Regions from separate parts of the Homo sapiens genome. Here regions 2 and 3 are each linked to region 1. The links come from fine-mapping of genetic effects on gene expression. A gene starts in region 1. Each other region holds a variant in brackets. All regions are shown on one strand. Distances are between the middles of the regions. Region 1 holds the start of BCR (BCR activator of RhoGEF and GTPase). Region 2 overlaps BCR (BCR activator of RhoGEF and GTPase). Region 3 overlaps BCR (BCR activator of RhoGEF and GTPase).

What was found. PIP is the estimated chance that this variant, and not a neighbour inherited with it, causes the effect.
Region 2: its variant is fine-mapped to the expression of BCR in thyroid (GTEx, PIP 0.95).
Region 3: its variant is fine-mapped to the expression of BCR in whole blood (TOPMed, PIP above 0.99). The same link has a PIP of 0.9 or more in uterus.

What each region holds. Positions count from the first base shown.
Region 1 is chr22:23,171,860-23,182,414 of GRCh38, reverse strand. BCR (BCR activator of RhoGEF and GTPase) reads right to left here and starts at 1,906. Exons shown (of 23, transcript NM_004327.4): 1 at 176-1,906. The coding sequence starts at 1,454. It also overlaps a transcript of RSPH14 not described here and the pseudogene BCRP8. RefSeq lists silencers at 1,376-1,455, 1,476-1,745, 1,816-2,055, 5,460-5,559 and enhancers at 2,176-2,986, 5,947-6,046, 8,139-8,433, 8,419-8,468.
Region 2 is chr22:23,312,740-23,323,294 of GRCh38, reverse strand. BCR (BCR activator of RhoGEF and GTPase) reads right to left here. Exons shown (of 23, transcript NM_004327.4): 20 at 10,274-10,408; 21 at 9,222-9,327; 22 at 8,581-8,743; 23 at 5,258-7,862. The coding sequence ends at 7,773. It also overlaps the pseudogene POM121L11P and the pseudogene RPS10P30. Among named protein-coding and RNA genes, the nearest start is that of LINC02556, 8.6 kb to the left of the region's middle. RefSeq lists a silencer at 7,509-7,628 and enhancers at 7,379-7,673, 8,810-9,311. The variant C/T (reference allele first, on the strand shown) is at 7,716.
Region 3 is chr22:23,304,444-23,309,443 of GRCh38, reverse strand. BCR (BCR activator of RhoGEF and GTPase) reads right to left here. Exons shown (of 23, transcript NM_004327.4): 17 at 1-20. Among named protein-coding and RNA genes, the nearest start is that of LINC02556, 20 kb to the left of the region's middle. The variant A/C (reference allele first, on the strand shown) is at 2,718.

The DNA of each region.
Region 1 (10,555 bases):
GAAGGAGGAGGGGATGGAGTTTGTTCGGGTGCAGGATCCGCGTGAACCACAAGTGCACCTGATACACTCAAAACTATCCACTCCTCCCTCCCAACTTCTGTTTTGTATCCCCTACTCGTCTATGGTTTTCCTCCCCCGTGCAGGTGTGCCCACGCACGTGGCGTGAGGAACTCACCTGCGTCTCCATGGAAGGCGCCCTCGCCATCGTTGGGCCAGATCTGCCCGGTCTTGCGGACGCCCACGATGGTGGCCTCGGACACGACAACCGGGCAGTGCCGGTGCCGCTTATGGCACTGCGGCGTGGGGGGACTGCTGCTGTCGAAGGACTGTTGCGAGTTCTGCGAGGGAGAGCGGCTTTTGTCCCGGAACATGCGGTAGGTGGTGGGGCTTGGGGACACGCGGCTGGACTGGCCAGAGGAGAAGTCCTCCTCGCTGGAGGTGAGGTTCTCATTGGAGCTGCAGTCCGGGGTATAGCCGCCTCCGCAATCCTCAAAACTCCGGGGGGAGTAGGACCTGCGGGGCCAGGTAAGGCGCTTCTCCTGCTCAGAGGTGCTCTGGCTGCGCAGGAGCGGGCCCTTGCCCTCCCCTTCCATCATGCCCCCGACGTAGATGCTCTGGTAGGGCTGGTACTCCAGGGGCGGCCAAGGGGGCCTGCTACCGCCATTGGCGTCGATCAGGTTGTCCTTCAGGAAGCGGGGGTTCAACTCGGCGTCCTCGTAGTCGCCGTCGACGCCGCAGCTGCTCTCCGAGGAGCGTCCCCGGTAAGGGGGCCTGGATGCATCCCCCACGCTCGAGCCCGCGCCGTGCTGGGACTTTTTGCGCTCCATCTGCATGGCCTGGCTGCCCAGGGAGCTGATGCGGTCCGACACCTCTTTGTCGTTGACCTTCACCAGGCCGCGCTCGTGGTGAAACTCGACGTTCACGTAGAAGGGCTTCTCGGCGTCCGCCCCGGGCTGGCCATGGCCCTTGCGGATCCGCTCGAAGTTGGACCTGAGCGCCGCCACGCTGGCGGGGGGTCCCCGGTCGTCCCGTTCCCCCGACGCGGCTGCCCCGGGCCTGCGGGCGGTCCCGGGCCTGGCCTTACCCGGAGAACCCTCGCCGTCGGGCCGGGCCTCGGGCTCCTCGGCGGGCGGCGGGTCGGCTCCGTCGGCGGGCGCTGGCTGCGGGCGCGACGCGGACGCTCGGGGCTCGGAGGCGCCGTCGGGGGCCTGCGCCGCGCGCCGGAAGCCCCATCGCTGCCGGTCATAGCTCTTCTTTTCCTTGGCCAGCAACGTCTGCAGGTAGATCATGCGGAAGCGCTCCTGGTTCACCTCCTGCTCCAGGCGCCGAATGGAGGCCTTGCAGCGCTCCAGCTCCTGCTCGATGTCGCCCACTGAGCGCAGCTCCATGCGCGGGGGCTCTGAGTCCGGGAACTGCGCCTTCCACGCCTCCGCGAAGCCCACCGGGTCCACCATGGCGCGGCCGGCCTTACCTGCGCCGCCGGGCTGCGCGCGGGGCCCGTCTCAGCGGCGGCGCGGCGCCTCGCCAGCCCGGCCCCGGGCGCCGGGCGGCCCCCATGGCCCGCGCGGCGGCGGCGGCGGCGAACAATGCCCGCCCACTCCCTGGTGGCAGGTGAGGCGGAGCGGGGCGCTCGGCGCGCGGGGCGGGGCGCGCCGGGGGGAAGGGCGCGGGCTGCGCGCGCCGCTATTGTGTGCGGGGCTCCTCCGCACGGCGAGGCGCGGGCGCTGCTCTCCGCTCCGCCAGGCCGCCGCCAGACTCTGGCCACGGCCCGCGCGCTCCTCGCCTCTCGCTTCCGCACCGCCCCACAGCCCCGCCGCCGCCGTGCCGCCGCCGCCGCCGCCGCCTCCTCGGACGCTAAGCTCAGCCAGCCGGCTCTCGCCGCACTCCCGCCCGGCCCGCACTCTGCGCCGCAGGAAGGGGAGGGCCGGGGGGAGGTGGCCGCGGCGCGGATGACGGAGCCAGGCGGGCCTCTTAAAGGGGCCGCGCCGTGGGCACAGGGCGGGGGGGCCCCCTGGAGGCGGCTCCCCCATCGAGCCGCCACCCTCCCCCCGTCCCTGTGCCTTTTGGGAAACTGAGGCCCTAACAACAGCGAATTGGACTGTGCAACTCGCAGCCCAGGGGTCCCCCGTAAAAAAGACACCGGACTCCCTGGTCCATAAAGACCTTTCCAATACAGAGGTCTGGGCCAGTTCTGCAGTCCTGGAACAGGAACACTTGGCTCCCCTCCGGCCAGGAGGACTTCTCCGGCCAGTCCAGCCGCGTGTCCCCAAGCCCCACCACCTACCTCATGTTCCGGGACAAGAGCTGCTCTCTCTGGCAGAACTCGCAGCAGTCCTCCGACAGAAGCAACCTCCCCCCTCTGCCCCTACCACGCCGCAGTGCCATAAGCGTCACCGGCACTGCCCAGTCGTCGTGTCAGAGGCCACCATCGTGGGCATCTGCAAGACCAGGCAGATCTGGCCCAACGATGCGGAGGGCACCTTCCATGGAGACGCAGGTAAGTTCCTCACACCTCACAGCCTGGCCTCTCACCAGCCTCAGGGCTGGGCACACTAGGGACCACCCAGCAGGGCCCAACTCACAGAGAGGCCAGGACCAGGCAGGTCACCCCGCAAGGCAGGGAGGGCCAGGCTGAGTAACCAATGCCAGCACCCTTGTTTCAGCGGGCCTCTCACGTTGTGGATCTGCTGTGGGTGGCTGCCACACGGGTTTGTCACAGCAGGACCACATGATGGATGATAAATAGGGATTTCTCCCTCAGGTCACTCAATACCCACACCTGCCTTCCTGTGTGCTGAGCCATGTGTTTGTCCCCTGGCCTCTCTTGAGCTCCAGAGGTCAATGTAGTTTTTCCAGGACGACCTGACTCAGAACTTCCCTGATTAGCCTCCCTCTAAGGGGGCGGCCAACCTGCACTGAGGTTCACAGGGCTGGGTGGAAGACAGCCCAGAGCAGGGAGTGAAACAAAACCTTTGATGGTTCTCTGGGGACACAGAGATCTGAGACACAGTGGAGAGCACTCTGCAGGGACTCTGATGGGCACAAACTGAAAATACCCAAACCAGCCCGCTGGGTTGGGGGAAAAGGAAACAGGATTTGGCAAATGAATTACTGGGCTTGAGTCCTGACCACCTCTCCCTCTCTGCCTCAGTTTCCTTGAAGTGAGAAGCACATCTGCCTCCAAGTGCTGTTGTCCCTGTGTGGATGTTAGGGATTATCATGCCCTCCTCCCAATGCCAGCGTCATCTGGAGCAGATACTTTGAAGTCCAATCTAAAGGACTGAGCCCAGGCTAGTAGCCAGGCCAGCCCTGCTTGGGTTCAGGGCTTCCTGCCGACTCCTGGCTGTGTGACCTCAGCAGTGTCTCTCTCAGCCTCTCTGAGCCTCAGTTTTGTCATCTGTTCTTCATGTGCCCAATCCTGCTTCCTTTTCCCCTGACCCGGCAGGCTGGTTTGGGTATTTTAATTTTGTGCTCATCAGACTCCCTGCTCTTTGCCCTGTCTCAGATTTCCAGGCTTCCCTAGAGAACCATCAAAGATTTTGTTTCACTCCCTGCTCTGAGCTGTCCTGTCTTCCACCCAGTCCTGTGGGCCACGGTACAAAATGTTGAGAGCATCCTGCATAAAATGCCCAGATGGGGCAAACATAAAACACAACCTGATAAATGGTGTGTAGGGGTCGATTTCGTGATTGCCTGTTAATATTAGTGCCCCTGGAGAACATTCCTGCCCTGGAAAACCCATGGGCCCCAGTTTCTAGGCTGGGTGGGCGGTGCGCAGCTCACTGCTGCCCTCTGCAGGCCTTGCTAACCTCCTGCCATCCTGGTCCCTTGGACCCAGCGGACCTTCTCATCCCCTTCCCATCAGGCTGCAAATAGCCCATTTTGCATGTGAGGAAACTGAGATGCAAATGATGCCCTGGCCACTAAAGGGGCTGGAATCCCAGTAGTGCCATACTGAGCAGTGCTCTCATCCTCAGTGGCCTATTTTTTTTTTTTTTTGAGACGGAGTCTCACACTGTTGCCCAGGCTGGAGTGCAGTGGAGTGATCTCTGCTCACCGCAACCTCTGCCTCCTGGGTTCAAGTGATTCTGCTGCCTCAGCCTCCCAAGTAGCTGGAATTACAGGCGCCTGCCATCACGCCCAGCTAGTTTTTTGTATTTTTAGTAGAGACGGGGTTTCACTGTGTTGGCCAGGCTGGTCTTGAACTCCTGACCTCGTGATCTGCCCGCCTTGGCCTCCTGTAGTGCTGGAATTACAGGTGTGAGCCACTGCACCCAGCCCTCAATGGCCTCTTCTTTAAAATGGGTATGATAAAGGCAGGCACAGTGGCCCATGCCTGTAATCCTGGTGTTTTGGGAGGCCGAGGCAGGAGTATCGCTTGAGCCCAGGAGTTCAAGACCAGCCTGGGCAACATAGTGAGACTCCATCTCTACAAAAAAATTTAAAAATTAGCCTGGCATGGTGCCTCGTGCCTGTAGTTCTACCTGCTCAGGAGGCTGGGGTGGGAGGATTGCACTGAGCCTGGGAATTTGAGGCTTCAGTGAGCTAGGATCACGCCACTGCACTCCAGCCTGGGTAACAGAGCAAGACCCTGTCTCTAAGTAAACTCTGAAGCTGTTTAGTTTGAGTTTGCATGCTCTGTTCTCTTGGCATAGCAAATGGCTTTTTGTTAGGCACAAGGACACGTCCAGATAGTGGCTTTCTCCCTTGTGGGACAGCCTCTTCTGGCCCCAAGGACACTGTTCTCTCCTCAGGACTTCCCTGAAAGCACCCCTATCCTGAGCCTCTGGGCCTTTCCTGTAGAGTTTTCTTATCATCCATCCCTCCCTAGGGAGGAATGCAGCAGGGCATGGGCATGGGCATGGGGTTTAGACACACATAACACTCTGTAATCCCCCACTCAGTGTCTGTTCCAACTAGATCTAAACTCTGCAAGGTCACAGACCTGTTTGTCTTGTTCCCCTATGTCTCTCATATAGTGAGCTCAGAGTAAGTGCTCAACCAGGTCTGGTGGAATGAGGAACCAGATGTGTGCATGGCCTGGAGGGCAGATAGGTCACCGAGAGCGATGCCTGTGTATGGGGGAGGAAGTGATAAGGCATTCACAGCCCGGCTATAGCAAAGGTGTGTGTGTCCTGTGGGAGAAGGCACAGTTCGGGGAAAGGCTTGCCAGGGGAGGTGATGCCTGAGCTGGTCCTAAGGACAAGGACCAGGTAGGCAAAGGACAAGGAGGCTTCAAAGTTCTGTTTGAGGAGCAGCCAGGTTGGGAGATGAGGCTGGTGTAGGCAGTAGGAAGTGGGATCAGAGGTGAGGCAGGGCCTTGTAGGCCTGCACAAAGTTTGGGTTTTATTCTAAATGCAAGGAAAAGCTGCTCAAAGGTTCTAGACCTGCACTGTCCGATAGAACTTGCCAGTACCATGGGCATGTTCTGTAATCTGTGCTGCACAATGTGGCAGCCACGAGCTGCCCCGTGTGATTACTGAGCATCTGAAACGTGGCTGGGGCAGCTGAAGAACTGAATGTTTGGTTTCGTGTTAGTGAGTTTCAATGGCCACCGTGGCTGCTGTACTCAACCGCACAGGAAGCGGGGTGACTTGCTGGGGTCTGTTGCATGGAAGGTTGGGCGTGGGAGGTGGGAGTAGGGGGAGTGGTTGGGGATTGTGGCAATTGTTTATGAGGAAGGCATTGGTGACCCAGAATAGGGCAGAAGCAAGGTACCCCAGAGAAGGGGTTAGAATTCAGGAGCATTCTGGAAGTAAAACTCATGGGACTTGTAGATGGAGTGGGTGTGGGGAATGAGGGATGTTGGGGTGATCAGACCCAACACCAGGCCGTGGGGGCGACAAAGTCTGGCGGAGTCAAAGGAGTGAGAAAAGGCAAGAGAGAAAGTGGGACCAGGGGGCCAACGCTAGTATAGAGGCTGCAAAGGCCTCTAGCCCTAGGAGCCTATGCTATTTATTGGTGATCAAACAAAGAAACAGGTGGTGAGGATGTGGGGATTGAAAGGAAGCGGTGTATCAAGCAAATGAGCTACAGCTGTGACAGTTTAGCATTTTCTTTGAAACATATGGCTACTTGAGATAATGAGAGTGCTAGAAGGAAGGAGCCAGCAAGTCTAGCAGACATGCAAGCCCTGCCTCAGCTTCTCTCCCCACACCCAGCTTTTCCCCAACAGAGGGAGGCCAGCTCATGGGGATGACTTTGGGATGGTGACTGCAACAGGCAAGCAGAGGTGCCTGCACAGGGCTTCAGGTCCGCATAGCCCATCCATGAGCAGGCATCAGGCAGAGGGTGACCCTGTTGCACCAAGGAGCAATGAAGACCTCAGAGAGAAAGTGGAGTGTTGCCAGTGAATCGATGTTGTTTGTTGCCACGGGGCTGGAGACTCTCCCCCTGCCTGCGTGAGGCTGGGTGGAGAAGGGACAGTTACTGGACTAGGGGGGAAGTAGAGGCAGAGGGACTGAGAAGGGACTGGCCAGGGAGATGATGGGGACCCTGGAGTCTGAGCGGAGAAGACTCAGTGAAGAAGGCAGAGCCTCATGCTGATAGCTGCTGTTCCCTCAGTGGGAAGGATGCTAGCTGAGTCTGGCATCATGAGGCCGGCAGGGCAGAGGTGGGCCCTGGAACTTGGCTGCAGAAGCTGGAGGCTGGATGGGCCCTGAGCGCTACCCCAGGAGCCTTCTGAGGGGTTCAGCAGGAGGAGGGGGCTTCACCAAGGGCTCCACAGCTGTCTATGAGCAGTGGGTGACATTTATTTTCTAAATCATCATGCTTTTCTAAATTCTTCATAATAAAACGCCTATCTATGGCTCACGCCTGTAATCCCAGCACTTTGGGAGGCTAGGCGGGCGGGTCACTTGAGGTCAGGAGTTTAAGATCAGACTGGCCAATATGGTGAAACCCTGTCTCTACCAAAAATATAAAAATTAGCTGGGCATGGTGACTCCAGAGGCGGAGGCTGGAGAATTGCTTGGATCCAGTAGGCGGAGGTTGCAGTGAGGGGAGATTACGCCACTGCACTCCAGCCTGGGTGATGGAGTGAGACTCTGTCTCAAGAAAAAACAAACAAACAAGCCAACCCACCTATCTTTTGTAATTTAAAAAAAAATAGATTTTTTGCCAAGTGCCGTGGCTGACGCCTGTAATCCCAGCACTTTGGGAGGCCGAGGCGGGCAGATCATGAGGTCAGGATATCGAGACCATTCTGGCTAACACGGTGAAACCCCGACTCTACTAAAAATACAAAAACAAATTAGCCGGGTGTGGTGGTGGGCGTCTGTAGTCCCAGCTACTCGGAGGCTGAGGCAGGAGAATGGCGTGAACCCAGGAGGCGGAGCTTGTAGTGAGCCAAGATTGCGTCACTGCACTCCAGCCTGGGTGACAGAGCGAGACTCTGTCTGAAAAAAAAAAAAAATTTTTTTTTTACAATCTTTTTTTCTTTTTTTTTGAGACGGAGTTTTGCTCTTGTTGCCCAGGCTGCAGTGCAATGGCGTGATCTCAGCTCACCACAACCTCCGCTTCCCGGTTCAAGCAATTCTCCTGCCTCAGCCTCCCGAGTAGCTGGGATTACAGGCATGCACCACCATTCCTGGCTAATTTTGTATTTTTAGTAGAAACGGGGTTTCTCCATGTTGGTCAGGCTGGTTGCGAACTCCCAACCTCAGGGGATCCACCTGCCTCAGCCTCCCAAAGTACTGGGATTACAGGCGTGAGCCACCACACTCAGCTTTTTTTTTTTTTACAACTTTATTGAAGTATAATTGAAGTGTCATAAACTGCGCATAAGGAGTGCGATTTGATGAGTGTTGACATCTGTGTATACTTTGAAGCCATCGCCACAATTAGATAACAAGTATTTCCAGCATCCCCAATCCATATTATGTTTTTAAATCTCGAAACTAAAATATAACAGAGAAGTGGGGTTTTTGGTGATGTTCCCCCTCAATTTCCCTTGTTCTCTGAGTGTGGTTACATGATTCTATTATTTATTTATTTACTTATATATTTTTTGAGATGGGGGTCTCGCTCTGTGACCCATGCTGGAGTGCATTATTGCAATCCTAGCTCACTGCAGCCTTAGACGCCTGGGCTTAAGTGATCCTCCTAACTCAGCTCCCCGAAGTGCTGGGATTACAGGCGTGAGCCACAGTGCCCAGCCTAGAAGTAATTTTAAAATCAAAACACACACACACACCGTCACACACCCTCAGCAGCAGCCCAAGTGGTTCCTAGGCCCCAAGCAAAAGTTCCAGCAAACCCCTCCCGGAGGCCACCCTTTCCCTTTACTGGAAGAACAGGCTGGGACCCAACCGCCCCCTCTGCTGGAGACAATGCAGAACTTCTCATGCCTCAAAGCCCTGGGGATGGAAAGCATGCAGGTGTCAGTCAACAGATGAAAGAATAGAGGCTGGGCACAGTGGCTCACACCTGTAATCCCAGCACTTTGGGAGGCCGAGGAGGGTGGATCATTTGAGGTCAGGAGTTCAAGACCAGCCTGACCAACATGGCGAAACCCTGTCTCTACTAAAAATATGAAAAAGTTAGCCTGGTGTGGTGGCGCATGCCTGTAGTCCCAGCTACTCAGGAGGCTGAGGCAAGAGAATCGCTGGAACCCAGGAGATGGACGTTTGCAGTGAGCCAAGATCGTGCTGCTGCACTCCAGCCTAGGTGACAGAGCGAGACTCCGTCTCAAAATAAATAAATAGTAAATAATAACGGAGAAGAAGTTTGAGACCAGCCTGGGCACCATAGTGAGACCCCATCTCTAAAAAAAAAAAACAAAAAACAAAAAACCAAAAATAAAAAAATTACCTGAGCATTGTGGCATGTGTCTGTAGTCCCAGCTACTCTGGAGGCTGAGGTGGAAGGATTGCTTGAGCCAGGGAGGTTGAAGTTTTAGTGAGCTATGATCATACCCCTGCACTCCAGCCTGGGCGACAGAGTGAGACCCTGTCTCAAATTAAATAAATAAATGAAAAGAAGGCCAGGCACAGTGGCTGATGCCTGTAATCTCAGAACTTTGGGAGGCCGAGGCGGGCGGCTCACGAGGTCAGGAGATCGAGATCATCCTGGCTAACATGTTGAAACCCCATCTCTGCTAAAAATACAAAAAATTAGCTGGGCATGGTGGCAGGCACCTGTAGTCCCAGCTATTTGGGAGGCTGAGGCAGGAGAATGGCGTGAACCTGGAAGGCGGAGCTTGCAGTGAGCGGAGATCGCGCCACTGCACTCCAGCCTGGGTGACAGAGCGAGACTCCGTCTCAAAGAAAAAAAAGAAAAAAAGAAAGAAAGAAACTGTGGTACATCCAGACAATGGAATATTAATCAGCACTAAAAAGAAAGGAGCTGACAAGCCATGGAAAAACATGGAGGAAACTTAAATGCCTATTACCATATGAAAAGACACTATTCTGAAAAGGCTACATACTGTATGATTCCAAATATATGACATTCTTTTTTTTTTTTTAGATGCAGTCTCGTTCTGTACCCCAGGCTGGAGTGCAGTGGGGCGATCTCGGCTCACTGCAAGTTCCGCCTCCTGGGTTCATGCCATTCTCCTGCCTCAGCCTCCCGAGTAGCTGGGACTACAGGCGCCTGCCACCACACCCGGCTAATTTTTTGTATTTTTAGTAGAGATGGGGTTTCACCGTGTTAGCCAGGATGGTCTCGATCTCCTGACCTCACAATCCACCCTGCCTCGGCCTCCCAAAGTGCTGGGATTAAAGGTGTGAGCCACCGTGCCCAGTCTTTTTTTTTTTTTTTGAGACGGATTCTTGCTCCGCCTCCTGGGTTCATACCATTTCCTGCCTCAGCCTCCCAAGTAGCTGGGACTACAGGCACCCACTACCGCGCCTGGCTAATTTTTTGTATTTTTTTAGTAGAGATGGGGTTTCACCATGGTCTTGATCTCCTGACCTCGTGATCTGCCCGCCTCGGCCTCCCAAAGTGCTGGGATTACAGGCTGAGCCACTGCACCTGGCCTTTTTTTTTTTTTTTTTTGAGACAGAATCTCGCTCTGTCACCCAGGCTGGAGTACAATGGTGTGATCTTGGCTCACAGCAACCTCCACCTCCCGGATTCAAGCAGTTCTCCCACCTCAGCCTCCCAAGTAGCTGGGACTATACGCGCACCATCACTATAGGCAGAGATTGTAGTGAGCCATGATAGTGCCACTGCACTCCAGAGGGGCAACAGAACCAGACGCTGTCTGAAAAAGAAAAAAATGAAATGAAATATTGTACTGATAAATGCTACAACATGGATGAGCCTTGAAAACATTATGCTAAGTGAAAGAAGCAGTCACAAAAAGCCACATATTGTATGATTCCATTTGTATGTCTTATTCTTACAGAATCAGTTTATGATGGCAATTGTTTTAACAGATGGATATAAAATGCATTAAGGAAGGGTGCTTTTTAACAATTTTTGTTTCTTCTTCCTGGTAACCAGGTGCTTGAGGACTGGCCTGTTAGATAGGAAGCTGACTACAGATATGTGCCACCGATCCTGGCTTCCACTTTTTCACTGTTGTCAATAACATTGCTTGTTTTTTTTT
Region 2 (10,555 bases), 140 kb before region 1:
TTGGTATCACCTACATTGCCAAAGCTGCAGTCCCCCTCCACTCCCGGAAGCCACCAGAAATGACTGCTGTTGTCTGCAAAGCCCACAACTCTGATTTCATCTCAAGATATGTCCTACTGGGTGACTGCAAATGTCATTCTTTAAAGGCTTGTATCTGTTACAAGCTTGGGAAATATTATCAATGGCTTAAGAGGCTCTTTTGACAAAAGAAAACACTGTTCCCTGTAACCCCAGCTAGTCAGGAGGCTGAGGCAGGAGAATCGCTTGAACCCAGGGGGCGGAGGTTGCAGTGAGACGAGATCATGGCCCTGCACTCCAGCCTGGGCGACAGAGTGAGACTCGTCTCAAAAAAAAAAAAAAAAAAAGGAAGAATGTGCCCAACCTTCATGTCATGAAGGCCATGCAGTCTTTCAAGTCCCGAGGCTACTACATGAAGGAACAGTTTGCCTGGAGTCATGTCTGCTGGTACCTTACCAATGAGGATATCCAGTATCTCCGTGATTACCTTCATCTGCCCCTGGAGATTGTGCCTGCCACCCTACGCCGCAGCCGTCCATGGACTGGCAGGCCTCAGTCTAAAGGTCTGGAGGGTGAGCGACCTGCAAGACTCAACGAGAGGGGAAGCCGACAGAGATACCTACAGAGGGAATGCTATGCCCCCTGGTGCCAACAAGAAAGCCGAGGCTGCGGCTGGGTCAGCAACCGAATTCCAGTTTAGAGGCAGATTTGGTCGTGGACGCCGTCAGCCACCTCAGTAAAATTGGAGAAGATTATTTTGCATTGAATAAACTTACAGCCAAAAAGACTTAAAAAAAAAGAAAAAAATTATATTATGTCGCAAATGAACCCGTTGCAATGATCATACAGGTTTTTTCCTTTGATAGTTTGTACTACTTTAATAGTTTTTTCTTTTATTACATCATCTTAGTTTCCTAGGAAAACCCCAACTTGGTCATGATACATGTTTAATCCATTGCTGGATTATTTGCTAATATTTTATTTAGCATTTTTGCATATATGTCCATAAGAAGTTAGTCTATACTTTTGCCTGCTTGTACTATTTATGTCTGGTTTGGTTTTAAGCTTATATTAAATTCACAATGAGTTGGGGAGAATTCCATTTGCTTCTTTTTCTGTAAGGTTATGTAGGCCGGGGTCGTGTGTGGTGGCTTATGTCTGTAATCCCAGCACTTTGGGAGGCCAAGGCGGGCGAATCACGAGGACAGGGGTCGAGACCACCCTGGCTAACACGGTGAAACCCCGTCTCTACTGAAAATACAAAAAATTAGCCAGGTGTGGTGGCGGGCGCCTGTAGTCTCAGCTACTCGGGAGGCTGAGGCAGCAGAATGGCCTGAACTCGGGAGGCGGAGCTTGCAGTGAGCCGAGATCGCGCCACTGCACTCCAGCCTGGACGACAGAGCGAGACTCCGTCTCAAAAAAAAAAAAAAAAATTATGTAGGCCGCGCACTGTGGGTCGTGCTTGTAATCCTAGCACATTGGGAGGCCGAGGCAGGTGGATTACCTGAGGTCAGGTGTCCGAGAACACCCTGGCTAACATGGTGAAACCCCGTCTCTACTAAAAATACAAAAGATTAGCCAGGCACACCTGTAATCCTAGCTACTGTGGAGGCTGAGGGAGGAGAACCGCTTGAACCTGGGAGGCGGAGTTTGCGGTGAGCAGAGATCATGCCACTGCACTCCAGTCTGGGCTACAGAGCGAGACTTCCTCTCAAAAATAAATAAATAAATAAATTATTTTAAAAAAATTCTGTAGAAGATAAAGACTTTCTGTTCTTCTTAATGTTTGCTGAACTTATCTATAAAATCATCTGGGCCAGGTGCTTTTCTTTGGTTTTGTTTTTTGTGAGATTTTTGACTGGATGGGATACAGATTTTAAAATAAACATTCAATTCCTTTAATGGTTCTAGATCTAGACAAGGTTTTCTGTTTCTTCCTACTTCGTTTTTATGAAGTTATATTTTTCTTTTGAGCCGGAGTTTCTCTGTTGTCCAGGCTAGACTGCAGTCACCCCATCTTGGCTCACTGCAACCTCCGCCTCCCAGGTTCAAGTGATTCTCCCGCCTCAGGCTCCCGAGTAGCTGGGACTACAGGCAAACGTCAAAACGCCCGGCTAATTTTTGTATTTTTAGTAGAGATGGAGTTTTGCCATATTGGTCAGGCTGGTCTCGAACTCCTGACCTCAGGTGATCGACCTGTCTTAGCCTCCCAAAGTGCTAGGATTACAGGTGTACATTTATTTATTTGAGATGGAATCTTGCTCTGTATTTATTAATTTATTTATTTGAGATGGAGTCTTGCTCCATCGCCCAGGCTAGAGTGCAGTGGTGTAATCTTGGCTCACTGCACCCTCTGCCTTCCAGGTTCAAGCGATTCTCCTGCCTCAGTGTCCCAAGTAGCTGGGATTACAGGTGCCTGCCACCACAGCTGGCTAATTTTTGTATTTTTAGTAGAGACAGTGTTTCACCATCTTGGCCAGGCTCGTCTCGGGCTCCTGACCTCATGAACCACCTGCCTCAGCCTCCCAAAGTGTTGGGATTACAGGCCTAAGGCACATGCTCGGCCGTATTTATTTATTTAATTATTTAGAGACAAAGTCTTGCTCTGTCACCCAGGCTGGAGTGCAGTGGCGCCATCTCAGCTCACTGCAGCCTCCGCCTCCGAGGTTTAAGCGATTCTCATGCCTCAGCCTCCTGAGTAACTGGGACTACAGGTACTCACCACCACGCAGGGATATTTTTTTCTGTTTTTTTGTAGAGACACGGTTTCACCATGTTGGCCAGGCTGGTCTCGAACTCCTGACCTTAGGTGATCTGACAGCCTCGTCCTCTCAAAGTACTGGGATTACAGGCATGAGCCACTGCGCCCGGCCTCTCACTACGTTTAAGTGATGCCATGGCTCATGCCTGTAATCCTAGCACTTTGGGAGGCCAAGGCAGGTGGATCACCTGAGGTCAGGAGTTCGACACGAGCCTGGCCAACATGAGGAAACCCCGTCTCTAGTAAAAATACAAAAATTAGTCAGGCGTGGTGGTACAAGCCTGTAGGCCCAGCTACTTGGAAGGCTGAGGCAGGAGAATCACTTTAACCGGGAGGCAGAGGTTGCAGTGAGCCAATATCATTCCACTGCACTCCAGCTTGGGTGACAGAGTGAGACACCGTCTCAAAAAAAAAAGAAAAAAAGAAAGAAAAAAATGTGATGCCGGGGCATCTCAGCCTCAATACCTGCATGAGCACAGTCATGTCCAGGCCAGGGCTGCTGGTCGAGGTCTGGCCCCATCTCTTCTAGAAGAAAGGGAGTAAGCTTGCAGGGAGGCTGGGGGACAAGATCCCAGGATCTCAGCCTCCGCTCATGGATCAGCTCTGAGACCCTGACTGAGCTGGGGGTGCTCTGTGTGCACTGGTTTCCCCAGCTGTCAAGTAAAGGGATTGGATGAGGAAGTCTTGTCAAGGTGGAATGATCTCAGATTTGGGGCAGCAGTGAATGATCCCGCTCCCTGGGCCCATGCCAGTGGCCTGGCCTCGGCTGAACACAGCCCCAACACTCTGGAATGGGGATGAGGGGGAAGTCAGCTCTTGCTCTTAGTAAGAGAGATGCAATAGGGCTCTGTGGCTGAGCTGGGTGCCTTGCCTCACACCTGTAATCCCAACCTTTGAGAGGCTGAGGCGGGAGGATTGCTTGAGGCTGGGAATTTTGAGAATAGCCTGGACAACATAGCCAGACCCCATGTCTACAAAATAATAAGAAAACACACAGCTATAGTCCAAGCTACTTGGCAGGCTGAGGCAGGAAGGTCCCTTGTGTCCGGGAATTGGAGGCTGCATTGAGCTATAATCGCACCACTGCACTCCAGCTTGGGTGACAAAGTGAGACCCTGTCTCTAAAAGAAAAAAATATCGGCCTGTGAGCATGGGTTTGATCTTCAAACAGGACCCGGAGGGTAGGGACAGACAGTGCTGTCACCCTTAGGTGCTGAACACTCAGAAACGGGCCAGCGGCAGTCCTTTCCTCACCTGCAGACACCAGATTGGGCAGAACAGCACGTGGCACTTGCAGCTCTTGCAGTGAGGGCAGAACCCAGTGTCAACCCTTCTGCCTGTGGGAGGGGCTGCTGAGGCCTGCGGAGAGGCCAGGGTGGAGGCTCGTCCCCTTGTCCAGCCCTTGGCGTGGTCTCCACCAGGTCCCCAGTCCACCAGTGCAGGGCTCCCCTGAGCCTGCTGCTGCCACGGGCCCTGTCTCTACCCAGGACGTCCCCCCACCCTCGCAGTGTCAGGGAAATGATCATGGTGGCGGTGACACTCCGCAGGCAGGGCTGCTGAGAGAAGCTGAGAAGGGTCACACTGCAGGCAGGCGCCCGTGTGACAAGCCCCTCTCACCCCGAGAGAGCTGACCAGGCAGCTCACGAGCAGAGCCACATCCCGGGAGTCCGAGAAAGGTCCTGGCTGGGCTCAGCCACCTCACTGGCCACGGGCAGCCTTTGTCGTGTGAGCCTTGCTCTCCTGGGGAGGCTCAGGCTGACAGCTGTGGGCATTGCCGAGGGTAACCTGTGGCCCAGTGTATATGGCCGGCTCTCCTCAAGCTGCATTCATTCAAGTAGGACCCAGGGTGCATGCCCATCTCCAGCCCAGGGCAGCTCCCCTGTAAGCTGGGTGAGCTACTGAAGCCAAGGCGGGAGGCAGCTGACAACACCCACGGCCCATGCGGAGGTGGTGGAAAGGCTGGACTCAGCAGCAACACCAAATCCCGGACCAGGCAGAAACCACCCAAGACTGAGGGGCTCGTGCCAGAGCGGTGGCCACAGGTAAGAACCCGGGCCCAGGGTGGCAGGAATCCTCCATGTCCCAGGGCTTAGCATAGCAAAGGAAGACCAGCCGGGTCACCCTGGTGGCCATCTGTCCCTGTCCCACCTGCAGAGTCAGAACAGCCTCTCCCCAGTGGGGATCATCTCTCTCTGCCAAAGCAACAGCGGTCCCTGCCCCAACCAGACTACCCCACTCAGTGGGGTTACGGATGCTGCTCCAGCATCCTAACACTGCCCAGCTGGTGCCTGCCTGTGCTCACCCACACCCCCCAGGCCGGCCTTCCCTGCAGCCTGGGCTTGGCCACCTTGGCCTGATTGAGCACTGAGGCCTCCTGGGCACCCAGCCCTATCACTGCACCTGCTGCTTCCAGCCCCACCCCACCGGCTCAGGGGTTCTTCCCAGCGGCGCTGATCATGAAGTCAACATGCACGCAAGTCGTCTCAGGAAACTTTTTAATGAAAGTGTCGGCCACGGTGGTGTGTAGGTGGCTGAGCTCAGATTGCAGCTGCTAAGACACCAGCCACTTACCAAGAGAAAGCCAGGCTGCTTCAAACCCAGGGCCCAAGGCAAAAAAGCATCACTTCCGGCCGGGGAGTCTGGAAGCCACGCCTTGTGGGAGGTCACACTGGCATCTAGGCCTTCGCCTGCATTGCAGAAGGAGAGCCAGGTCCCCCTCCTGGAGAACGCTGCGTTCCCCAGCCCCACACCGGCTTTGCCACCACACAGGCTGTTGAGGCAGGAGGTGGGTAAGACGTAGCTGTAGACCCAAAGCAACCACCAGCCCTGGGACCCTGCGGGAGAGGAGCACTTTTAGAACATGGAAAAGTGTGGTCATCCCATCATTAGACAGCACACATCCTACATAAATAAAAAGTCGTATGGGGAAGGAGGTTGGGGAGGGAATAAAAAATTGGCACAGACATTGATAGACTGGTTTCCAGTTTCAAGGTAACAGATGCACATCATGAGACCAGAGGAGGCAGAGACAAGGCTGGATTTGGCTTTTCTAAGCAACACGTGTTCCTGCGCAGGGCTGAATGGTCGCTGAGACAGAGATGGAAGCCAGGACAAGGGAGCCCACCGGGCCCAGATAGGTACAGAGAGCAGAGGCTCCTGTTCTGTCCTCGCCACCCACGACGGTGACACTGCTTGTAAATGGTGGCTGTGCTCTCCCAGCAAGAAAAAAGCACAACTAAATCCACACTGCACACAGACGCAGACAGAAAGCCTTCAAGTGGCTGTTTTCTGCTCCCTGCCTTGCCAGGTCCACAAGCAGAGAGGAGTGTCAGGCGCATGGCCCCACTGTCAGGCTCCCTAGTGAGCTGCGGGTTCAGCAGGAGCTGCCCACTGACACACAGGGGACACCCACTCCTCCCACCTTGGGAGCGGGTGCCAGACAGAGCCGCACTGGGTGCTGGTGTCATCCAGGGACCCCACACACTTCCTTAAATGTGATCCTGCTTCCCTCTGGGCAGCTGCATCCTCTCCTCCTGCAGGACCGTGTGGAAACTTGGCTCTCAGTTTGCTCTCCCTTCTCTCCTCTGCCTGCCCCAAGCCCCTCTTTCTAAAAAAGTGATGGAATATTCATGGGGTTATTTCTTGAAAATACTTGGCGGTCTCCATGCTTCTGTTTTCTTTGAGCCAGGTGGTCAGGAGGGTTTACAAAGAATGCCTGGGCTCCCCCGCAGGTGTCGGCAGATGGGGTAGCGAATGGTCCTGTGCCTCCACCTGCTCCGGGAGGGAGTCTCCCGTCTCTAGGCCTGGCCCCTTCCTAACCCTCCACGTATCCTGTTCTCCAGAGACTTCAGAACCCACTCCTGAGAACAGCGGAGCCAGGCGCTTAGAGGAAGACCAAATGCTGCCAGGACACGGATTGTCCAGGGATTACATTCCAGCATCTTATTAGGTATCTGGATCTGTTCGGAAAAAAATTAGAAACTATGTATAAAACTTACAAATATTCAAGTATCAAAAGGTTATTTAGGATGAAAGTTTTAAAACAAGTCATCAGCAAGCTGCTGCCACCAAGTGGAGACTTATACAAAAGTTGAGCGAGTCCACTGAGCTGAGAGGACAGAAATGAAGTCACCTGTGCTGGGGCAGGGGCAGGGACACTGGGGGCAGGGAGTGTGTGGGCAGAGAAGCCAGAGAAGTCCAGGCCTGTGGAAGCCAAACAGGAGAGCGTGGGCCGGAAGGGCGGTCAGGATCGGGGGACGAGGTCGCTCTCCCTGGAGAACGAACCCTAAAGTGCGTAGCCTGGGGTTCCCTCCCTGGGGGTCCTGTCCCCTGACATTTCACAGGCCTTCTGAGCTGCCTTCCAAGGAGGACTAACATGGCAACAAAAGACCCATTTCTGCACAAAAATCCTTCTGGAAAGAAAAAGAAAGCCAAGAATGGAGTCAAAACGCTACCCAGTGCTGACTAAGCCTCTCAAACCCTGTTAGAAGTGGAGTGTGGTTTCTAAGTCAGGGAAATGGAAGAGGCCCCACCCACACAGGGACAGGGCCACGGCCCCCACAGGATGAAGCAGCAGCGTTTATTCAAGATACAACAGTGAGGGAATCCAGTCACGTTCCCTTCTCCCCAGAGAGGGCGCATCTTGACAAGTGATCCAGTAGAAATCTTTTAGACTCTAAGTTAAGTTCATAAAAACCACTCCCTTCACCCTGTCTCCCAGGGCCAGGCCTGGACTCCGAGATGAACTGGCTTGGGGCGCCCTCAGGTGGCCACATAAAAAACCACAGTCTGAGGCCAGCCTGGGGCTCCCAGACCTGGGCGGGATCTTTCCAGGCCACCTGTCCTTCGGCTTTGGGTCGCTGTCTCTTGGCAGATGGCCCAACACTTGGGGGTGGCCCAAGGACACCTCAGGAAGGTTCCCGCTCTACGGATGGCC[C/T]GATTAGCCAGAGGTTTCCAGGCCATCTGTCCGCCTCCAGGAGATGGACTGGGACCTTTAGACTTCGGTGGAGAACAGGATGCTCTGTCTCTTGCTGTCCGGGGCAGGGATGGCCTCCAGCTGCAGGAAGTACAGCAGCACCTGGACCTGCCCGGGCAGAGTAGGGAAGAGAAGAGTGGCTCAGAGCGGGGCTCACAGCTGCTGGTGGGAGGTCTTTGGGGCCCAAGCCTCCAAGTCCATCTCAGGTGCTGGGGACCCCTGCTGGTGTCATGAACCCCTTACAGTGAGATGGGGGTGGGGTGGGGTCCTGACAAGGCATGACTTGTTGGGTGGGGGGTGGTTATTTATTTTAGAGATGCACAGGGCCTTGCTCTGTCCCCCAGGCTGGAGTACAGTGGCTCCATCATGGATCACTGCAGCCTCTAACTCCTGGGCTCAAGAAATCCTCCTGTGTCAGCCTCCCAGATACCTAGGATTACAGATGTGTGCCACAATGCCTGGCTAATTTTTCTTTTTATTTTTTCTAGAGATGGGGTTTGCCACATTGCCCAGACTGGTTTCAAACACCTGGGATTGGTTATCCTGCCTTGGCCTCCCAAAGTGCTGGGATTACAGGCATGAGCCACCACACCCGAACACTTGAGGTAGTTTTAAGCTTCCAGCAAAGTGCACTAGCAGGACCAGGAGGTGGCCTGGGCCCCCACTATCACTCCCATCCATGCAGACCTAGGCAAGTCCCTCTCTGTGAATGTTGGCCACACCACATACAATGCAAGTAAGAAGATGGGCAGGACTGGGGGTGGGGCAGGCAGAGGCCACCTCTGTCAGGTCAGGGTTGCATGGGCTGGAGCCTGTCTTCCCATACCTGGGACATGACCTCCAAGGACCAGCTGTCAGTCATGGTGATAGGCTGGCTGGGGTTGGCAGGGAGCTTGCTCTCCTTCTCGGAGGGCCGGAGCAGCGTGGGGCCAAAGACCGTGGCGAGGTTGTGCAGGGACATCTTATTGACTGCCTCCTTCTCTGCCACCCTGTAGAGGACCAAAGCAGCGGGTGCTGTTTCAACGCCACCCCCAGGAGAGAGGCAGAGGGGCTGGGCTGTGCTGGAGTTCTCAGGAAGGGAGTGACCTCGACCCTGGCTGTGCTGCAAGCTGACTCCAGCCCTGGTACTTCTGGGTCTCAGTGGCCCAGGACAAGGAGCCAGCTCTGGGCTGGTGGGGAGGTCTCCTACTTGATGTGACTCGGAGGGAAGAGGGGGGTCCAAGTGCACTGCTGGCCACGGCCAAAGCTCTGAGCTCTTTTTTAAGGCCACAGTGCAGAGAGAGGAGGGTGGCAAAGAAGAGAGGCTGGGGCAGGGGTGGCAGTGGCACTAGTCGCCAAAGGCAGTGAGTGACTGCAGACAAGGGTCAGGAGAAAAGGTCCTCGGTGTTGGGGGTCTAGTGGGAGCAGAGGGGCACTCTGCGGCCTGGGGACCTGGAGCCCTGGGCTGCCATGGGAGAGCTGGGCTACCTTTTCAGGTGGTCCAGAAGGAAAAGGAAGGTGAGCAGGTTGGCCTCCGGCAGGGACAGCAGCAGGTTGAGCATGCAGCTCTCCTTTGCAACCGGGTCTGAAAGAGCTGCAGAAGGCGGTGGGTTACTCCTTGGGGTCACAACGAGCCAGAGACCTCTCCCGAGGTGTTCACATGGAGCACCTGGGGCTTGTGTCCCTGCACAGCCCAGGCTCGTCATCATCCTCAGTCTCACAGCTCTGGCCCCCATTGAGGACCCTGTGAGGGGCACCTGTGTGGGGTGTGAACCACCTGAACGCCTTTTCTCTACCTCGCAGGGGTCAGCAGCACCCGGCAAACAGCAGCAGGAGGAGCCGCTAGAGCAGCTGCTCATGGGCAGAGCTGCCCTTGGACAACTCCTGCCACCACCCCCTCCCCAGAGGAGCCCAAGGCAGGGGAGGCTCAGCATGGAATGAAACAGGGGAGTGAGGAACACAAGGAGGTGGGAAGTGGGAGGGTCCCAGCCCCACCAAGTACGCAGAGACCCCCTCGTCGTCCTGGACACCACAGGGGCACCTGCAGGCTGGGAGACCAGGTCCTCTGTGCATGGGCCCGGGAGGCAGACCTGCCCTAAGGGTGATGCAGAGGCCACAGGTACTGCACACACCAGCACCCACTCTAGACATCAGCCTCCAGGTTGACTAAGGGTCAGGTCATGTTTGAAACCATGCTTGGCTGGACCAGGACCCATGGCAAGAGCACCCAGGCACCCTCCTTCAGCCCTGGTCTGCAGGAAGGAGGACAGCAGACTTTAGGACCCCACAGCACAGCAGTGCTGACTATTTCAGCCTCTTGGTCTCCTTGAGGAGTAGGGACAGGGAGCCCTCTAGGGATGGGCAAGGCCTTCCAGGACAGGCTCGGTTCTGGTCCCCTGCTTTTTGAGGTTGGGTTAAAATGCCGACCATGGCAGAGGGGGCACAGCTTGGGTTCCCACACCTCACTTTTCACAGCCTCCAAGGGCAGCAGTGCACGTGGAGGAGACGTCTCCCATGAGGCCAAGGCCTCCAGTGCTCACCGATGCCCTCTGCGAAGTTGGGGTAGAACTCGTCAGTGAAGAGGGGCTCGGGCAGCTCACGGAAGTACAGCTTCAGCGTGCCTGCGATGGCGTTCACGTCCATCTCGCTCATCATCACCGACACGTCCTTGTTATCTGGAAAGAGCACGGAAATGCAGCGGCCTCCTTGAGGATCCCGAGTGAGTCTCCCACCATCCCTGCCTTGGCTAAAGCACTGTCCCTGCCATGCTGACCACTGTGCGGGTCCCTCCTGGGCTTTGAGCAGCTCATCTGACTCCTCCC
Region 3 (5,000 bases), 130 kb before region 1:
TGCAGGGCCTGCGGGTCCAGCTGAAAGGAAGGAGTCATGATTGGCAGAGGCCCTGGGGTCTGTTCAGAGGCCCCACGGGGCAGCAGCCCACACCCGCCACTTCCCCAACCCTTAGTCAGAGGCAGAGCCCGACTGCGGCCAGCACCTCCATCCAGAGGCCAACAGAGGTAGAGTAAGGAGGGGCCTGCCAGACACCCCTGGAACCCAGGGCCCCACTGCTCCCAGAGCCCTGCTGCCTGGGGTCCCCACCCCCTCCTCCCTCTGCCCCGCCCAGTTGGGAGCTGATGTGCAGGCTGGCAGGCTCTCTCCATCCGGCTTCCATCACCACGGGTGCTATGTGGAGCTCAGTGAAAGGTGAGCTGTCCAGCAGCAACTTCAGTAACAACTCCTGGGGGCCTGGCATCCACAGCTGCTGTCTGGGGAATTGTGGACACTGTTCTCCCCCTGCACCATGAACAGCTTGTGGCGGGAGGAGCCTGCAGGCCACACCAGTCCCATGGTTCAGAATCAGGCCCAGAAGGACCCAGAAACAAGCCCTAAATCAAGCAGCTGATGAGGGGGCCGGGAGGAAGCCCCTCTGTGACCCCTCTAACTTCTACCCCCACCCGGCACTATCCAGACAGCTAGCCTGCAGGAGCTTGTCCTTAATGTCACCCGAACACAGTCTGTCCTGGTATGTAACACCCTGTCATGACCAAGCCACATGTCCCCCATCCGTGAAGCCTCTGTCTCCCGTTTTATGGGGAGCACGTTCTATGTCAGCGGTTCCTGGGTATGCCAAGATCACTGGCTGGGCTGGGTGAATGAGCAGTACCATCTTGTTAAAAATACACCTCCCTGGCCAGGTGCGGTGGCTCACGCCTGTAATCCCAGCACTTTGAGAGGCTGAGGTGGGCGGATCACGAGGTCGGGAGGTTGAGACCATCCTGGCTAACATGGTGAAACCCTGTCCCTACTAAAAATACAACAAATTAGCTGGGCGTGGTGGTGGGCGTCTGTAGTCCCAGCTACTTGGGAGGCTGAGGCAGGAGAATGGTGTGAACTCAGGAGGTGGAGGTTGCAGTGAGCCAAGATGGCGCCACTGCACTCCAGCCTGGGCGACACAGCAAGACTTCGTCTCAAAAATAAAAGCAAAAACAAAAAAAACACCTCCCTGGGTTCCACCTGCAGAGAACTGACTCATAATCTGAGTGGGACCTGGGATTTACACAGCTAGAAACCCCAGGTAGTTCTGGAGTGAAGCCAGGTCACGGAGCCACCGTCTGACTCCATAGAAGGCCACTGCATCTGGCCTTGTGTTTCCATCCCTTGATTCAGGTGATGGTTCACTTCAGCCACAAGGCAAGCTGCCTAACAGCAGGGACCACACCTCATGATGTCTGCACACATTCACATGCGTGCACATATACATACACACACACGACGGTGCTGAGCACAGTGCCAGGCCTAGAGAGGGGCTGAGGACAGGCATCATTTCCACTGCAAGGGACCCTAGCGGCTACAGCCACCTGGGCCTTCTGCAGGTGAAGTGGCCAGAAAATAAGAAGCTCTGGAGCAGGTCAAGGAGCCCAGCCAGCTGCCCCCCTACTTCACAGGTGTGTGCACCTGGGCCTCCCTCCCTGCACCTGCTCAGCACGAAGGCTCACCACAGGCACACCTGGGGGTTGACCCCTTCTCACCTCCCCTTCTAGGTCCTACTGGTTAACGTTTCCCAAGGCTCTGAACTGTGCAGCCAGAGTGGCACAGAGAAGCAAAGGGCGGCGGGACGTCTCCCACCGGGGGCCATGCGGCCACAGGCTCTCATTCCGCACCTGGCCCTGAAGGTCGTCAGAGGCCACACTCCAGGCCTCAGGGACCCCACCCTGAGAAGCAGCATCTGTGAGCAGGGAGCGGTCAGTCAGAACCACACATAAAAAGGAAACTCTCAAGTGGCACTTTCCCCCGGAGTGAACCCTAAGCAGAGGCAGGAGAGGACAACATGAGGGATGCGGACAGAGTGCGCTTTCTCTGGAAAGGAGGAGTTTATACCACTGCTGGGAGCTTTAAAAAATGGAAACCCTGCCTGTGATATCAGCACTTTGAAAGGCCGAGGCAGGAGGATCACTTGAGCCCATGAGTTTAAGACCAGCCTGGGCAATATAGTGAGACCCTGTCTCTATAAAAAAAAAATTTTCAAAAGCATTAGCCAAGCATGGTGGCATGTGCCTGCAGTCCCAACTGCTCGGGAGGCTGAGGTGGGGGCAACACTTGAGGCTAGAAGGTGGAGACTGCTGTGAGCCATGATCATGCCATTGCACTCCAGCCTGCGCAACAAAGCGAGAGACCCTGGCTCTACTAACCAACCAAGTAACTGGAAACACAGAAACATGTTAAGCAGGAGACATTCTTACCTTTCCTTCAAAGAACAGCCATCACTGGGCCCCTCTCCCCTTGAAAACCCAGAACAGGCAGAAGCAGCTAACAAGCAACCCAGAGTCCAGGTAAGAAGAGACAGAAAGAGAAGCTGTCCAGACATCAGCGGCTGCCCCTCAAAGCCCCCCTGGAACCACGGCCCACAGGTGCTTTTCAGCAGAGGCCGCCCGGCTCCGGCCCGCCCGGCTGGGGTGGAAGTACCAAAGGAGGCCCTGCATCATGGCCAGGGTGGATGGTGACTCTTGCATGCTTGGCCTTGCTGCTCTGGGAAGCTGGTGGGGCTAAACGAGAGCTTCCAGCCTCCA[A/C]GGCCTTTTGACCAGGCTTTGAGGGAAACCCCACCCCGCAGTCTGGCTGGCCAAGGTCAAAGCTTCCCATCACCTCCGGGTTCCACTTTTTTGTGTGTGTGTGGGAAGAACACCCTCCCACCCCAGCCTATTGGTTACGGGAATTTCCAACGTGTCTCCATCTCCTCTAAAGCCCAGAAAAGCTGAGCTTCCTTCTCAAGTGGCTAGTTTCCTGTTGCCCAAGTTTGGAGACTGAGTAAAGTATGACTGGTCAGCCTGCCTTGTGCTGGAAGCAATCCAGACTGTCCAAAATCTGCACCACTCCCAGCAGGTAACCCCAATAATCAAATGCAGTGCCTCTGATGGACCCAGGGTGGAGGACACCCTGCTCAGGTCCTGCTCCCCCAGAGCTAGCTGGCTGAGCAATGTGCAGCCCTGGGTGGGGCTCCAGCCAGCGTCCACTCCCCAGCATTGGTGGTGTCCAGCGCCCACTCCAACCTGGTACTGATGCTGCCAGGAGGGCTCTTTATCGGGCCCCTCTCTGTGACTCCCAGTGACTGAAGACCAGGGTGTTGGCCTCCAGGCACTGGCTCTCACGGCGGTCCTGACTGGCAGCTCCAGTGGGAAAGGCTGTCCCAAGGCTGGCTCTGTTCCAAAGAACAGAGTGTGCGCCGCAGAGCGGAAGCCGTATAAAGAATAGCATGATAATGAGGCCTGTGCCTCAGCTCAGCCAATCCCAAACATTGCTCAAGGCTGGTACGCTCTCTCGTGCAGTTATTTAAAGCACCAGAGAAGTAAACAAGCAAAAGACTGGGGTTTGGAAAAACAGATGACCAAGGGGGAAACAGTTTTCCCTTAAGGGAAAAACCGAGGCACTCCGGATGCTGTCCAGGGTCCCCCTGGGTTGCAAGGTCTTGGTGAGGAACATGCCTGCTGCCTGGCCGGGGACTGGGCAGGCAGGGGTCTGTCTGCTCACATGCAGTGGTCTCAGGAGGATGGACCAGGTTGCTGCTCCTCTCCCCCTGGACTGGGTAAGGCAGGAGCCTTGAAAGAATGACTATGGTCAGCGGGCCTGGCAGATGGTGGCCTAGAGGTCTGCCTAGAAAACTATCGTGCACATCCATCCCAGGGAAGTGGTGGGGTGGGGGCTGAGGGAGGCCGAAGCCCAACTGGGGCAGGTGCTGTGTGCTGCCCTGAAGCATCACTGACCACTTTGCATGGTGGCTCTGCTGGGGGCCCAGCACTGCCCTGCTTGCTTTGTAGTCAGTGTGGCTGGATTGAGTCACCAATGGGCAGCCGGAGGACATCCTCTCACCCACCCTCAGCAGGGGCAGGGAGGGGGCTATGAGTAAACCTTCCAAAGGAGGAAATGCTTGTTCACTTAGCTCCTTGTAGACAACAGCTTCCTTCACGCCCATCGTCACCAGCCTGGATGGTCCAGCAGGGCAACCCCAGTTGTTCCTGTCTGGGCCCCATGTGTCTGCACTATAACCTACTCCCGGGGGTGGGTCTTTGCTGAGACCACCAGAGAACCTCTGTGTTCACCAGGAGAGAGATTACAGGCCTCCTGCTGTAGTCTATGACCACAATCTGCTCTCCTGAGATCCATCCTGCACCTTTTTTTTTTTTTTTTTAAGGCGGAGTCTCACTCTGTTGCCCAGGCTGGAGTGCAGTGGCGAGATCTCGGCTGACTGCAACCTCTGCCTCCTGGCTTCAAACCATTCTCTTGCCTCAGCCCCTGAGGAGCTGGGATTACAGGCACCTGCCACCATGCCCGGTTAATTTTTGTATTTTTAGTAGAGACGAGGTTTCACCATGTTGGTCAGGCTGGTCTTGAACTCCTGACCTAAAGCAATCCACCCAACTTGGCCTCCTAAAGTGCTGGGATTACAGGCGTAAGCCACCGCGCCTGGCCTCTATCCCACTTTTAACTCTTTGCTTCTCTTCTCTGATCCCAACCAGTCTCTAACATCACTTCAAAAGGAACACACCCTTCTCCCTTAGGATACACTATAACCAGCATCGGTGAGGATGTAGAGAAATGGGCTTTCATACATGGCCACTGGGGATGTAAGATGGTGCAGCTACTCCAGACAACGTAGGGCAGTTCCCCAAATAGTCACCTTGTTGCACAGCCCAGCAATCTTACTAGGTGTTTACTCAGTGAATGAAAACATACGTCCATATAGAGACTGGTACCAAGGACATGTTCGTGGCTGCATCAACCTTAACAGCCCAAACTAGAAATGATCCAAGTGTCTGTCAAATAGTAAATGCAGAAATAAAAACATGTTATATGTATGC